Homo sapiens: one gene and its partners. The protein of the gene in region 1 purifies or fractionates together with the protein of each later gene. This does not show direct contact. Each region holds a gene or a part of one and is shown in the gene's direction. Other genes may lie near its edges.

Region 1 (3,960 bases):
CTGGGAGGCGGAGATTGCAGTGAGCTGAGATTGTACCACTGCATTCCAGCCTGGGTGACAGAGTGAGTCTCCATCTCAAAAAAGAAAAAAAAGAAAAGATCACACAGACAGTGACTCACACAGGCCCCTCCTTTCCAGGGCCTCAGTTTGTCTCTATTCAATAGGAGCAAGAGGAAATTATCACTGCTTTAATATGGGGAGAAATTGGTGCCTTGTATGAGCCGGGATAAAGAACGTATTGGATATGAGAATGAGAAGCCCTTGTTACCCCAGGTGTCTGACCTCTTTATCCAGGACTGGGCAGTCAGTATTCCCTTATTCTCCCTCCTTTCTTACCCTGATCCTTTTTTTGTTTGTTCATCTACCTAGGATTCTACAGGCAGGAAACATCTTAGAAATCAGGGTTGGGCAGGCAGGAGCCAGGAGAGTAGCTACAATGACTTCACCAGTACTGGTGGACATACGAGAAGAGGTGACCTGCCCTATCTGCCTGGAGCTCCTAACAGAACCCCTGAGCATAGACTGTGGCCACAGCTTCTGCCAAGCCTGCATCACACCAAATGGCAGGGAATCAGTGATTGGTCAAGAAGGGGAAAGAAGCTGCCCTGTGTGCCAGACCAGCTACCAGCCAGGGAACCTGCGGCCTAATCGGCATCTGGCCAACATAGTGAGGCGGCTCAGAGAGGTAGTGTTGGGCCCTGGGAAGCAGCTGAAAGCAGTTCTTTGTGCAGACCATGGAGAAAAACTGCAGCTCTTCTGTCAGGAGGATGGGAAGGTCATTTGCTGGCTTTGTGAGCGGTCTCAGGAGCACCGTGGTCACCACACGTTCCTCGTGGAGGAGGTTGCCCAGGAGTACCAGGTGAGACCCCAGGATGGAATGGGAGACAGAGAAACAGGGTCTTTGGCAGGTTTTAACGTTTTATCATGCTCTGATCTAATCTCTTTGTAGTCTTTATTTACCTAGAGAATGAACCTGGAAACTGCCTCCCTGATTAAGAATAGATTCTTTATCATTTACTTGCTATTCCAGATTGAGTAGATAGAGCTGCTTGGGGTAAAAGGGGTACTTGGTTGATTGAGTGTGGAGATATGTTGGCAGGGTAGGTAAAGGAATTTATTTACTCATGTATTTATTTTGAGAAGGCGTCTCGCTCTGTCGCCCAGGTTGGAGTGCAGTGGTGCGATCCCGGCTCACTGCAACCTCCGCCTCCCGGGTTCAAGCAGTTCTCGTGCCTGGCCTCCCAAGTAGCTAGGACTGTAGGTGTGCACCACCATGCCCAGCTAATTGTGTGTGTGTGTGCGTGTGTGTGTGTGTTTAGTAGAGATGGGGTTTTGCCATGTTGCCCAGGCTGATCTCAAACTCCTGAGCTCAGGCAATCCACCCGCCTCAGCCTCCCAAAGTGCTGGGATTACAGGCGTGAGCCACAGGTGCTTTGTGGTCAGGCACCTTCCCAAGGGGGATGGAGAATCAGCCTATCCCTGTTGGTTTTCATCCCATGTATATATATAAAAGATTTGTTGGCCCTCTCAAGTTTTCATCCTAGGTTAGGACAGGCTTCTTTTGAGGTTAGCAGAATCTCTGTCCCATTCATTCTATGTCTGGGTACTGAGTCAACTGAAGGCTTGATCCTGCTTGACCTGATTTGTTTTCTTCAAGGAGAAGTTTCAGGAGTCTCTAAAGAAGCTGAAGAACGAGGAGCAGGAAGCTGAGAAGCTAACAGCTTTTATCAGAGAGAAGAAAACATCCTGGAAGGCAAGGGAGACTTTTTCTGAAGATGTCCTGGGGCAGGAATCATGGCAGGTCATAGGAGCTGAGGGCAAAGGAGTCCTTGTCCTGTCTGTCCTCTGATGCCATGACTAGAAGAGCTTCCCTTTGCCTGGTCCTCCACTATATTCCTTCCAAACAGGGGGAGGAGAGGAGGTAAATAGCAAATATATCAAAACTGAACCTAGGAGACAATCACATAGCAGAGGAACCATGGCTAGGGGTCGCCCCAATTCATAATTCTGGGTCTTGCTCTACAGTTTCAGTCTCTTTGGCTTTTCCCTTGCATTCAGAGTACAAATGCAAGGGAAAATGCAGGTAAGGCTTGTGAAGAAGCCCAGATCTGAGACAGGTTAGTCACAGGCCAGTGATTTCCACCTCAGTACTCGAAATTGGAAGAGGAGGCTGATGCAGAGGTGAGGGAGGCTTCCTGGAATCTAAACGTCACCCAGGAATCACAGTTGATGTCTAGATGGCCTAGATAAAGCAGCCCGGGGCCAATGGTCTGGGCAGAGCTGAAGGGAGAAAAGAAGGAAAGAACAGGCTACAAAGGCTTTCTCCTGCAGCATTTACCCTCCCTCTCCCTGGGAGGCTTGGCCCAGGAAAGCAGTCCTGAGCCCAACTTCCCCGCTTTTAATAGAGGAGACCCTCAGTGTGACCGACTAGCAGCCTCTTTTTCTTCCCTGTTCCTGAAGAATCAGATGGAGCCTGAGAGATGCAGGATCCAGACAGAGTTTAATCAGCTGCGAAATATCCTAGACAGAGTGGAGCAACGGGAGCTGAAAAAGCTGGAACAGGAAGAGAAGAAGGGGCTACGAATTATAGAAGAGGCTGAGAATGATCTGGTCCACCAGACCCAGTCGCTGCGAGAGCTCATCTCGGATCTGGAGCGTCGATGTCAGGGGTCAACAATGGAGCTGCTGCAGGTAAGGCTTGTGAAGGAGCCCAGATCTGAGAGTCAAGGAAAAGAGAAACTAACTTTCCTTCCTTTCTGGGACATCAGACTACCATCGTTGCAGGGACAAGAGAAAACATTCCTTTGGCGCTATAGTGCCTATCCCCTATTAAACTGTTTAGAGGTATGGAGTAAAGCGTAAGATAATTCAGAGTACAAATGCAAGGGAAAGTCCCATTTTTATTTATAAAGGGTTGTCTAAAAGTTTATTTGATGCTGTGGAGAAGTTCTGTTGTATCCAGTGATGTTGTTCTTTCTTTCTCAGTCTTGGCACTATTTACATTTCTGGCTGGATAATTCTTTGCTGCGTGGGGTTCTCCTGTACATTGTAGGATGCTTAGCAGCGTCTCTGGCCTCTGCTCACTAGATGTCAGCAGCACCACCCCAGATGTGACAACCCCAAATTTCTTCAGACATTGCCACGATAGCCCCAGGGTGAACACAGTGCTCTCCCAGTTGAGAACCACTGTTCATTAGGCACCTCTCGTCTCTGATGCTGTGTTGGGAATTTGCCAAGTGCTTCTTACCCAGCTTAGTCACAGGCACACTTACGCCAAGCTAAATTCTTAGAGATGATGTATTACCAGCCCTTCTTTGTTTTCACTCTCTTCTCTAGAGCAGAATCATTTAACATACTGTAGCAATTGATATTTGAACTGGTTTTGGGGGTCTGGGCTCTGGTCTGTATGTGTGTAGGTCGCAGATTACAAGGTATCAAGCCTAGAGAGATTTGATGGAGGGACTTGAACTGAGGTTGAAATTCTAGCAGCTATTTTCTGCATAGAATGAATAGTGTGGTTGTGAATTTGAGGCATGATGTAGCTTGTGATATTCTGTAACCTTCAGAGTGTAAGATATTCTTTATATTTTGTTTGTCTTCGTGCTTTCCTCTTGCTCCTTCTTTCTTGGTGGAATAATTGTTTATTTACATATTCTTGGGTCTTAGTATTAGAGCCATGGGTAGCTACTTTCTGCCTGTTACAGCTTTTTCTCATTCACTGCTTCCTGCTTTGCATCTTCATTTTATTCTTCTTGCCTTTTTGTCCTCATCATTGATATTATTACCCTGATACTTTCTCCTTCACCTTTTGTTCTGGCTCCTCAACAGTCCTCAAACTGTAAATATTTTTTAAATGCAAATGAATCGTCAATTCATATTGCTAGTTTAGACACTTCCACATTCATTAGTATGACTGCCCCACGGACATTTAAACTTGAGTAGTCTTTTCTAAAAATAAAC
Region 2 (3,500 bases), on another chromosome or scaffold:
ATGTGTGTGTGCATGCACGTGTGTGTATGTGTGATATTGGCAGTCAAGGCCCCGAGGATGATAATTTTTTTTTTTTTTTTGAGACGGAGTCTCGCTTTGTTGTCCAGGCTGGAGTGCAGTGGTGCCATCTCGGCTCACTGCAACCTCCGCCTCCCAGGTTCAAGCCATTCTCCTGCCTCAGCCTCCCAAGTAGCTGGGACTACAGGTGCATGCCACCATGCCTGGCTAATTTTTTGTATTTTTAGTAGAAAATTTTCAGCTTCACCTCTTTTGAATTTCTGCTCTCCTGCCTGTTCTTTAGCTATCCGTGGTCCTGAACCAGTTATGTGTGTTGCATGAGAAAACGCCAGTAAGTGACAGAGTCACCAAATGCTGCACAGAATCCTTGGTGAACAGGCGACCATGCTTTTCAGCTCTGGAAGTCGATGAAACATACGTTCCCAAAGAGTTTAATGCTGAAACATTCACCTTCCATGCAGATATATGCACACTTTCTGAGAAGGAGAGACAAATCAAGAAACAAACGTGAGGAGTATTTCATTACTGCATGTGTTTGTAGTCTTGATAGCAAGAACTGTCAATTCAAGCTAGCAACTTTTTCCTGAAGTAGTGATTATATTTCTTAGAGGAAAGTATTGGAGTGTTGCCCTTATTATGCTGATAAGAGTACCCAGAATAAAATGAATAACTTTTTAAAGACAAAATCCTCTGTTATAATATTGCTAAAATTATTCAGAGTAATATTGTGGATTAAAGCCACAATAGAATAACATGTTAGGCCATATTCAGTAGAAAAAGATGAACAATTAACTGATAAATTTGTGCACATGGCAAATTAGTTAATGGGAACCATAGGAGAATTTATTTCTAGATGTAAATAATTATTTTAAGTTTGCCCTATGGTGGCCCCACACATGAGACAAACCCCCAAGATGTGACTTTTGAGAATGAGACTTGGATAAAAAACATGTAGAAATGCAAGCCCTGAAGCTCAACTCCCTATTGCTATCACAGGGGTTATAATTGCATAAAATTTAGCTATAGAAAGTTGCTGTCATCTCTTGTGGGCTGTAATCATCGTCTAGGCTTAAGAGTAATATTGCAAAACCTGTCATGCCCACACAAATCTCTCCCTGGCATTGTTGTCTTTGCAGATGTCAGTGAAAGAGAACCAGCAGCTCCCATGAGTTTGGATAGCCTTATTTTCTATAGCCTCCCCACTATTAGCTTTGAAGGGAGCAAAGTTTAAGAACCAAATATAAAGTTTCTCATCTTTATAGATGAGAAAAATTTTAAATAAAGTCCAAGATAATTAAATTTTTAAGGATCATTTTTAGCTCTTTAATAGCAATAAAACTCAATATGACATAATATGGCACTTCCAAAATCTGAATAATATATAATTGCAATGACATACTTCTTTTCAGAGATTTACTGAAAAGAAATTTGTTGACACTACATAACGTGATGAGTGGTTTATACTGATTGTTTCAGTTGGTCTTCCCACCAACTCCATGAAAGTGGATTTTATTATCCTCATCATGCAGATGAGAATATTGAGACTTATAGCGGTATGCCTGAGCCCCAAAGTACTCAGAGTTGCCTGGCTCCAAGATTTATAATCTTAAATGATGGGACTACCATCCTTACTCTCTCCATTTTTCTATACGTGAGTAATGTTTTTTCTGTTTTTTTTTTTTCTTTTTCCATTCAAACTCAGTGCACTTGTTGAGCTCGTGAAACACAAGCCCAAGGCAACAAAAGAGCAACTGAAAGCTGTTATGGATGATTTCGCAGCTTTTGTAGAGAAGTGCTGCAAGGCTGACGATAAGGAGACCTGCTTTGCCGAGGAGGTACTACAGTTCTCTTCATTTTAATATGTCCAGTATTCATTTTTGCATGTTTGGTTAGGCTAGGGCTTAGGGATTTATATATCAAAGGAGGCTTTGTACATGTGGGACAGGGATCTTATTTTACAAACAATTGTCTTACAAAATGAATAAAACAGCACTTTGTTTTTATCTCCTGCTCTATTGTGCCATACTGTTAAATGTTTATAATGCCTGTTCTGTTTCCAAATTTGTGATGCTTATGAATATTAATAGGAATATTTGTAAGGCCTGAAATATTTTGATCATGAAATCAAAACATTAATTTATTTAAACATTTACTTGAAATGTGGTGGTTTGTGATTTAGTTGATTTTATAGGCTAGTGGGAGAATTTACATTCAAATGTCTAAATCACTTAAAATTGCCCTTTATGGCCTGACAGTAACTTTTTTTTATTCATTTGGGGACAACTATGTCCGTGAGCTTCCGTCCAGAGATTATAGTAGTAAATTGTAATTAAAGGATATGATGCACGTGAAATCACTTTGCAATCATCAATAGCTTCATAAATGTTAATTTTGTATCCTAATAGTAATGCTAATATTTTCCTAACATCTGTCATGTCTTTGTGTTCAGGGTAAAAAACTTGTTGCTGCAAGTCAAGCTGCCTTAGGCTTATAACATCACATTTAAAAGCATCTCAGGTAACTATATTTTGAATTTTTTAAAAAAGTAACTATAATAGTTATTATTAAAATAGCAAAGATTGACCATTTCCAAGAGCCATATAGACCAGCACCGACCACTATTCTAAACTATTTATGTATGTAAATATTAGCTTTTAAAATTCTCAAAATAGTTGCTGAGTTGGGAACCACTATTATTTCTATTTTGTAGATGAGAAAATGAAGATAAACATCAAAGCATAGATTAAGTAATTTTCCAAAGGGTCAAAATTCAAAATTGAAACCAAAGTTTCAGTGTTGCCCATTGTCCTGTTCTGACTTATATGATGCGGTACACAGAGCCATCCAAGTAAGTGATGGCTCAGCAGTGGAATACTCTGGGAATTAGGCTGAACCACATGAAAGAGTGCTTTATAGGGCAAAAACAGTTGAATATCAGTGATTTCACATGGTTCAACCTAATAGTTCAACTCATCCTTTCCATTGGAGAATATGATGGATCTACCTTCTGTGAACTTTATAGTGAAGAATCTGCTATTACATTTCCAATTTGTCAACATGCTGAGCTTTAATAGGACTTATCTTCTTATGACAACATTTATTGGTGTGTCCCCTTGCCTAGCCCAACAGAAGAATTCAGCAGCCGTAAGTCTAGGACAGGCTTAAATTGTTTTCACTGGTGTAAATTGCAGAAAGATGATCTAAGTAATTTGGCATTTATTTTAATAGGTTTGAAAAACACATGCCATTTTACAAATAAGACTTATATTTGTCCTTTTGTTTTTCAGCCTACCATGAGAATAAGAGAAAGAAAATGAAGATCAAAAGCTTATTCATCTGTTTTTCTTTTTCGTTGGTGTAAAGCCAACACCCTGTCTAAAAAACATAAATTTCTTTAATCATTTTGCCTCTTTTCTCTGTGCTTCAATTAATAAAAAATGGAAAGAATCTAATAGAGTGGTACAGCACTGTTATTTTTCAAA
Region 3 (3,500 bases), on another chromosome or scaffold:
GAGACTTGTGATTTGAAAAGACATTCTAAGATTTAAAAGTGCTTTTAATATTTTTTAGTCATGATATTTAATTTGTTTGGAAATTTCAAATAACGTTAAAGAAGAAACTTGTTTGTCAAAGGAGTCAAGGGGTGAGAGTTGAGAAACTGTGATCTACAAAGTTGATTTAAGCCAAATCGGACTAAAGGGCAGATTAATTCCACATTCTGCTGTTTTGGTAGAAGATACGTATATAGAACAAAGAGGAAAGGGATACCTTATTCAGATTGTTAATGTTCTTTTGTTGAACTTGACCTTATTGTACTGACCACCAGTTCTGTTTTTATCCTCCCAGTGGAAGGACAGGTTAATAATTGGATATTAGCTGATGGTACTAGATTAAGCCCCATGAGGGTAAGGATCTGTAGCTAGCATCATATTAATCCCAGACACTATTTTTGAATTAAATGATATGAAAAAGTCTAAAATAAGCCCACGCACTGTAAGTGGTTTACCTCATGTCTTACTCGTGTTCGCTTATTAAAATCTCCCATAGATCTTTGCATATGAGGCTGGGCACAGTGGCTCATGCCTGTAATCGCAGCATTTTGGGAGGCCGAGGTGGGTGGATCATTTGGGGTCAGGAGTTTGAGACCAGCCTGGCCAACATGGTGAAACCCCATCTCTACTAAAAATACAAAAATTAGCCAGGCTTGGTGGCACATGCCTGTAATCCCAGTTACTCAGGAGGCTGAGGCAGGAGAATCACTTGAACCTGGGAGGCAGAGGTTATAGTGAGCCAAGATGGCGCCACTGCACTCCAGCCTGGACAAGAGTGAGACTCCCTCTAAAAAAAAAAAAAAACCTTTGCATATGAGCTGCAGCAATAAAAGTGCTATGAGACCCAACCTCTCTGTAACCGTATTCTTTGAAAGCTGTGGAATAAGGCCAAGTGCAGTGGCTCACATCTAATCCCAGCACTTTGGAAGGCTGAGACGGGTGGACCACTTGAGGCCAGGAGTTGAAGACCAATCTGGGCAGTGTAGCAAGACCCCTGCCTCTACAAAAAATTTTAAAATTAGCTGGGCATGGTGGTGCATGCCTATAGTCCCAGCTACTCAAGAGGCTACAGTGGGAGAATTGCTTGAGCCCAAAAGGTCAAAGCTGCAGTGAGCCACGATTGCACCACTGCAAAAAAAGAAAAAAGAAAAAGCAGGCCGGGCGCGTTGGCTCACGTCTGTAATCCCAGCACTTTGGGAGGCTAATCACGAGGTCAGGAGATCAAGACCATCCTGGCTAACACTGTGAAACTAAAAAAAAAAAAAAAATTAGCCTGGCGTGGTGGCACGCGCCTGTAGTCCCAGCCACTTGGGAGGCTGAGGCAGGAGAAATTGCTTGAACCTGGGAGGCGGAGGTTGCAGTGAACTGAGATCGCGCCACTGCACTCCAGCCTGTATGACAAAGCGAGACTCCGTCTCAAAAAAAAAAAAAAAAGCGTAGGATGGATTCAAAATGTGATCTGGTTGATCATAAACAATACTTTTGGAGCTGGATTAATATTAAGTCACTTGAGAGATACAGAAAATACCATGTTCGTGGTCAACTTTGATTATTTTAGCCGGGTTCATCTGGTTTGCACATTGAGACCGTAATACTTCAGGTTCTAATTGTGTCCAGAAGGCTATGTGTTAACATTCATAGCAAACTGGTTACCTTTATTTCCTGAAAGTTAAATTTTGAAAGAAAGGGATACCAAGTGAGAAAGCAACCTTCAGTTAAACAAAGGGGTACATCAAGTTTGATATTCTTGGATTAAAAATCAGGTGACAATTGGAACATGGAGGAGAAATTCATGATTATAAAAACCATGAAGCCAATCTTTTTTACAACAAAGCTGCTTGTTTTTTTCTTAATCATGTAGTGGCTGCTATCAGGCCAGTTCTGGAACTTCACTGAGTCCCTCTGCTCTTCTGAATCAGCTCTTGATTGGTGGTGACTTCTCGGAAGTTCTGAGGACCACAAAGAAAGAGCAGTGTCAGTTCACTAAGTTGAGCCATTTGGAGATTACTAAATATTCCATAACTGTGGGAAACACTTAAATGTGTTGGTTATTAGGGTTTTCGTGTGTTTTCCTTTTAGCATTACATCCTCATATGCAGTGTTGTTATAGTAGAGGAGGACATTTTTTCTAGAGGGCAGAGAGATCTAGGGAATATGACTGTTAACATTTGAACACTTTCAAATAGCAGTACGTTTTACTGTGGTTTTGATAACCTGACATAGAATAAGCTGCTGAGATGCAAGGATACCTTGGTATATAGAAAGAGCCTTAGACTTCGTATGAAAAAAACTTAGGTTTTATCTTCAGCCTAGCCATCTAATGTCTCTGTAACTTTACAGACATCTGGTGTTTCACTTAACCTCTCTGAGACTTAGTTTCCTTTTCTGTAAATTGATAGTTGTGGCCAGGCACCATGGCTCATACCTGTAATCCCAGCATTTTGGGAGGCTGAGGCAGGAGGATCACTTGAGCCTGGGATCCTCCAGGATACTTGAGACCAGCCTGGGCAACATAGGGAATTAAAAAACTTTTTAAAAATCAGCTGGGCGTGGTAGTGTGCCTCTGTGGTCCCAGCTATTGAGGAGGCTGTGGGAGGATCACATGAGCATGGGAGGGTTGAGGCTTCAGATAGCCGTGGCCACACCACTGCACTACAGCCTGGACAACAGAGCAAGACCCTGTCTCAAAAAAAAAAAATGGGGCCGGGTGTGGCGGTTCACACCGTAATCCCAGCACTTTCGGAGGCCGAGGCAGGAGGATCACCTGAGGTTAGGAGTTCAAGACCAGCCTGGCCAACATGGTGAAACCCCGTCTCTACTAAAAACACAAAAAATTAGCTGGGCATGGTGGCGGGTGCCTGTAATCCCAAGTATTCGGGAGGCTGAGGCAGGAGAATTGCTTGAACCCAGGAGGCAGGGGTTGCAGTGAGCCGAGATGGCACCATTGCACTCCAGCCTGGACAACAAGAGCAAGACTCTGTCTCAAAAAAAAAAAAAAAAAGACAGTTGTGATTCCTTCCCTATATGGTTTGTTTACAAGTGTCAAAACAGTCTTCAAAACTGCCATACTGAATATGTTATGTGAGATACGAATTTTTATTGATCTTTTTTATCCAAAGAGCAGTGAAAGTAGTAACTGAATAGAAGTAGTTACAAAATTAAAGATCTCAAATGATAAGTGAATATAGTAGAAAATAAAAGGTTGCCCCCACACTCCAAACATACTCTCCAGGGTGTATCTCAAACACTCAGACCCTTTTCCGTACGTAAACATGTGTTTACACATAATAGGTATTCTGCAACTTTTAAATTTCTTATTTATGTCTGCATAGTACCCCTTCATGGAAATGCCATAATTTAACCATTTGAGGAGCGTCCATGTTATTTCTTTCTAAATAATGTTTTACAATATTGCATTGTACAACTCTGTAAATACCTGAGTATTGGTGAATAATCTTTCT
Region 4 (3,500 bases), on another chromosome or scaffold:
CGAGTATTAACAGCTGTGTTGACTAGCCCAGTTAAGTGGTTTTTAGTGAAGTAAGAATGATTTCTCATAGGCAGTGAGAGTCCCTTCTAACCTCTAGTTGTGGTGGCGCACAAATAAGACGTGGCACTTACCAGCCTCAAGTCTCTGTCAGGTCACGGGCTCGGCACTTTTTGAAAGCAATTTTAAAGAGCCCCAGGTTAAAGGCATCTTGCTAAAAGCACAGCTTCAAGAAGACTTTTCTTGAAAGCTTTAGAATTTGTGAAAACGTATAGTACAACACTGAGGCTTGATTGGGACTGTGATTAGCTAGAGAGGATTCTCAGAATATCGAGGTGTTTGGGAAGCAGAAAAGAGGACACTGGGCCTCACTCCTGGGTCCTGCAGAGGAACAAACCTGAACCGAGAGTCCTCTTCTCTCCGTCCCCTGGCACAGCAACCCCACCTCATACCTCCTTCCATATAGATGACCCAGGAACTGTGGGCATGGCTGGCTTCTAGCCGGCTCCCTGTCTACCCTAGGGGCGCCCTATACCTTCCCGTGAAGACTCAGACACTGTCTCTCCCAGGCCTGCACACAAGAGCTGTGCTTTCTGCTGACGGGCTTGGCTGCTGTGCCGGGTTTAGTGTCCGTTGCTCCTCTCACACTTCTAGCTGCCTTATCACTCATCAGCCGATTGCTTTTTAATCCCATTTGAGGACCAGCAAGAGGAAGAAAGATGCCAGTGAGAATCATGTAACAGATCCTCCTCCCCATTTTATTCTATCCATCGGGAAACCTGGAATGCCGGCTAAGTCAAAGAAGGCATCCTCGGCCTCTGCTCCTGCATCTTCACTCGCCTCCAGATCAGCTGTCTGAGCTGACTTGGATGTTTTGCTACAGTGATTTTATTTTTATATCTTTTCTTGCTTGCTGTATTTTTATATCCGCTGCCACCTCCAATACATTATCAAAATATGACATAAATGGGGGCTGGGCGCAGTGGCTCACACCTGTAATCCCAGCACTTTGGGAGGCCGAGGCAGGCAGATCACCTGAGGTCAGGAGTTCGAGACCAGCCTGACCAACGTGGTGAAACCCCAACTCTTCTAAAAACACAAAAATTAGCCTAGCATGGTGGTGGGTGCCTGTAATCCTAGCTACTTGGGAGGCTGAGGCAGGAGAATCGCTTGAACCTGGGAAGCAGAGGTTGCTGAGATCATGCCACTGCACTCCAGCCTGGGCAACAGAGCAAGACTCCATCTCAAAAAAATAAATAAATAACATAAATGGGGGACAAGAGGACCTCACTTGGGTCATGGGTCAGAAGTACAGATGGCTGCCTCGAACAGCATGCCTCCGACGGACTCTTGTGTCGGTGTAAGTGGTACTTCTGCGCACAGTAAGAGCAGGGAGTTCCCGCCTCGTAGCAGCTGGTAGACTGGTTCCTATTTGGAGAAATCATGTTACTGTTCTGTAACTGAAGTTTTGTTTTGTTTTTTTTTTGTTTGTTTGTTTTTTTCTTGCTCTGTCACCCAGGCTGGAGTGCAGTGGCGCGATCTCGGCTCGCTGCAACCTCTGCCTCCCGGGTTCAAGTGATTCTCCTGCCTCAGCCTCCCGAGTAGCTGAGACTACAGCCGCGTGCCACCACGCCCGGGTAATTTTTTGTATTTTTAATAGAGACGTGGTTTCACTGTATTAGCCAGGATGGTCTCGATCTCCTGACCTCGTGATCGCCCGTCTCAGCCTCCCAAAGTGCTGGGATTACAGGCGTGAGCCACCGTGCCTGGCCTGTAATTGAAGTTTTATGATCTGACGCATATGTAAAATTTTAATTCTTGCCTTGGATTTTTCACAACTGTTTTTGTTTTTAAGTCAGCAGCTTTTTTCTTTTCCATTTTGTAGAGCACCTGTTTTTAAGGGGCCTCCCACAGGAGCATCACAGCCTCGGCCGTTGCTCCTGTTTCTTTAGTGAGCTGGCTGCACATTTTGTGTCCTATTACGTCACATGGCTCATTTCCTTCATGAGTCAATTTTTGTGCAACTGAAGGGATAGAGTGTTGTTTTGTTCCTGGTCTGACAGGCAGTTTACTTGCTGGGGAGAATGTTGTTAGCCATTTTCTGCTGCTGTTACCCTGAACCTTTCTAAAAGTGCTTCAAGCCATTGATATTTTGTTTTCCAGAACTGCTTTCTCCAGGGGTTAAAAATAAGAATTTTAAATGCCACCGAACCTATCGGCTCTTTGCAGGTGAGTAAATTTGTACGACATTACTTCTTCATTAAAACACTGATGAAGGGGTTTACAGCTGGGCACAGGTTTGCTGCAACTTAGCATAGCGACCAGATGCTGTACTCAGGTATCCCTGTGGCCTTGTGAGTCGGGGAGTCACGTGAGAGTTTTACCTGAAACTCTGCGTAGATGACGGATTATCATCTTGGCCCTGAGGACAGATAACAGAAGACCTTGCTCAAAGCGAACATTTCTGTCTTTGAGTCAGAGGAGGGAGTTTCAGGCTCCCAGGCTGGCTGTTTGAGAATGTGACCTCTCCCGGCTGTGCTTGTGGCACCTGTGGGTGACAGTGCTGTGGAGTTTCCACGACACCTGGTCACCCAGCCAGGTTGGGTGAGCGCGCCCCCAGCCGGTGATCCCTGCGTCCTCCCCCACAGGTATTGTTAGGGCTGCTTGAGAGGGTGGGCCCGATTACACAAGCTCCTCGGCTGCCAGGCCCTCAGTCAGTCATGAGAAATCTCCCAACAGGGTGAATGGCACCCCCTGTTCCCTCATGGGTGGACCTTGAGACCTCTTCTGTCTCCTGGCTTAGGCTCCCTGCAGTATCATTTTTTCTGCCACATCATCTTCCCTTTCCTTTCTGCCTTCCCTTTTATCCTTCTTTCTCTTTTATAGCGTCATCTTTTATGCCTCTGAGTCTTTACCTCTTTGGATTGTTGCTGTTTGCCGCACTTTTGTTTGCTTCCCAGGCTGTTTTTACTACATGTTTCTAGCTTCTGTGTCTTCCCTCCTCTGGTGTGGCCTTTGGTGAACCTGTTTGTATCGTAACATAACACTGCCATTTATTGACCTTCACACATGTATTGAACCTCTTCCCAAGATATTCTTTCATTTCCTTACATGTGTCCTAGGAGATGGGAGGTGGGATCCCTGTTTTATAAAAGAATAAACCAGAACTCAAGGAAGAAAACTCACCACTCTGGCCTGCAGTGGCAGAGCAGGGCTTCAAGCTCCTGTCCACCTCAGCTCACGCCCGATGTTTTAGGAAGTTTGGCGAGTGGGTGAGGGCCCAGGGATGGGGGCCCAGGGGTGAGGGCCTAGCGGTGGGGGCCCAGGGGTGAGGGCCCAGTGGGTGAGGCCCAGAGCCACACTGCAAGGTGCCAGGCTTCCCTCTCTTCCTCTCACTATTCATTGTTCCTTTTGACTCTCTTCTTTTCTCCCCCCGATCACAATTCCTCCTCAACTTGCTGGGCCTCAGATGGGACGGCCATGGGCACCACGCGCTTGTGGGT

The links. Proteins that work in one complex are often made in the same cells at the same time.
Region 2: the proteins of TRIM6 (region 1) and ALB purify together in Homo sapiens (affinity purification with mass spectrometry, with the first as the bait; 2 studies listed by BioGRID). This does not show direct contact.
Region 3: the proteins of TRIM6 (region 1) and EIF4B purify together in Homo sapiens (affinity purification with mass spectrometry, with the first as the bait; one large-scale study listed by BioGRID). This does not show direct contact.
Region 4: the proteins of TRIM6 (region 1) and USP10 purify together in Homo sapiens (affinity purification with mass spectrometry, with the first as the bait; one large-scale study listed by BioGRID). This does not show direct contact.

The regions. Positions count from the first base shown.
Region 1 is NC_000011.10:5,602,877-5,606,836, forward strand, and holds part of TRIM6 (tripartite motif-containing protein 6), read left to right. Parts: intron 1-369; coding exon 370-859; intron 860-1,657; coding exon 1,658-1,753; intron 1,754-2,460; coding exon 2,461-2,691; intron 2,692-3,960. Other genes in the region: TRIM6-TRIM34 (tripartite motif-containing 6 and tripartite motif-containing 34), read left to right, coding at 370-859, 1,658-1,753, 2,461-2,691.
Region 2 is NC_000004.12:73,417,787-73,421,286, forward strand, and holds part of ALB (albumin preproprotein), read left to right. Parts: intron 1-301; coding exon 302-525; intron 526-1,720; coding exon 1,721-1,853; intron 1,854-2,467; coding exon 2,468-2,512; 3' UTR 2,513-2,535; intron 2,536-3,305; 3' UTR 3,306-3,500. UniProt on the Homo sapiens protein: Binds water, Ca(2+), Na(+), K(+), fatty acids, hormones, bilirubin and drugs. Its main function is the regulation of the colloidal osmotic pressure of blood. Major zinc transporter in plasma, typically binds about 80% of all plasma zinc.
Region 3 is NC_000012.12:53,012,956-53,016,455, forward strand, and holds part of EIF4B (eukaryotic translation initiation factor 4B), read left to right. Parts: intron 1-3,500. UniProt on the Homo sapiens protein: Required for the binding of mRNA to ribosomes. Functions in close association with EIF4-F and EIF4-A. Binds near the 5'-terminal cap of mRNA in presence of EIF-4F and ATP.
Region 4 is NC_000016.10:84,773,000-84,776,499, forward strand, and holds part of USP10 (ubiquitin carboxyl-terminal hydrolase 10), read left to right. Parts: intron 1-2,160; coding exon 2,161-2,226; intron 2,227-3,500. UniProt on the Homo sapiens protein: Hydrolase that can remove conjugated ubiquitin from target proteins such as p53/TP53, RPS2/us5, RPS3/us3, RPS10/eS10, BECN1, SNX3 and CFTR.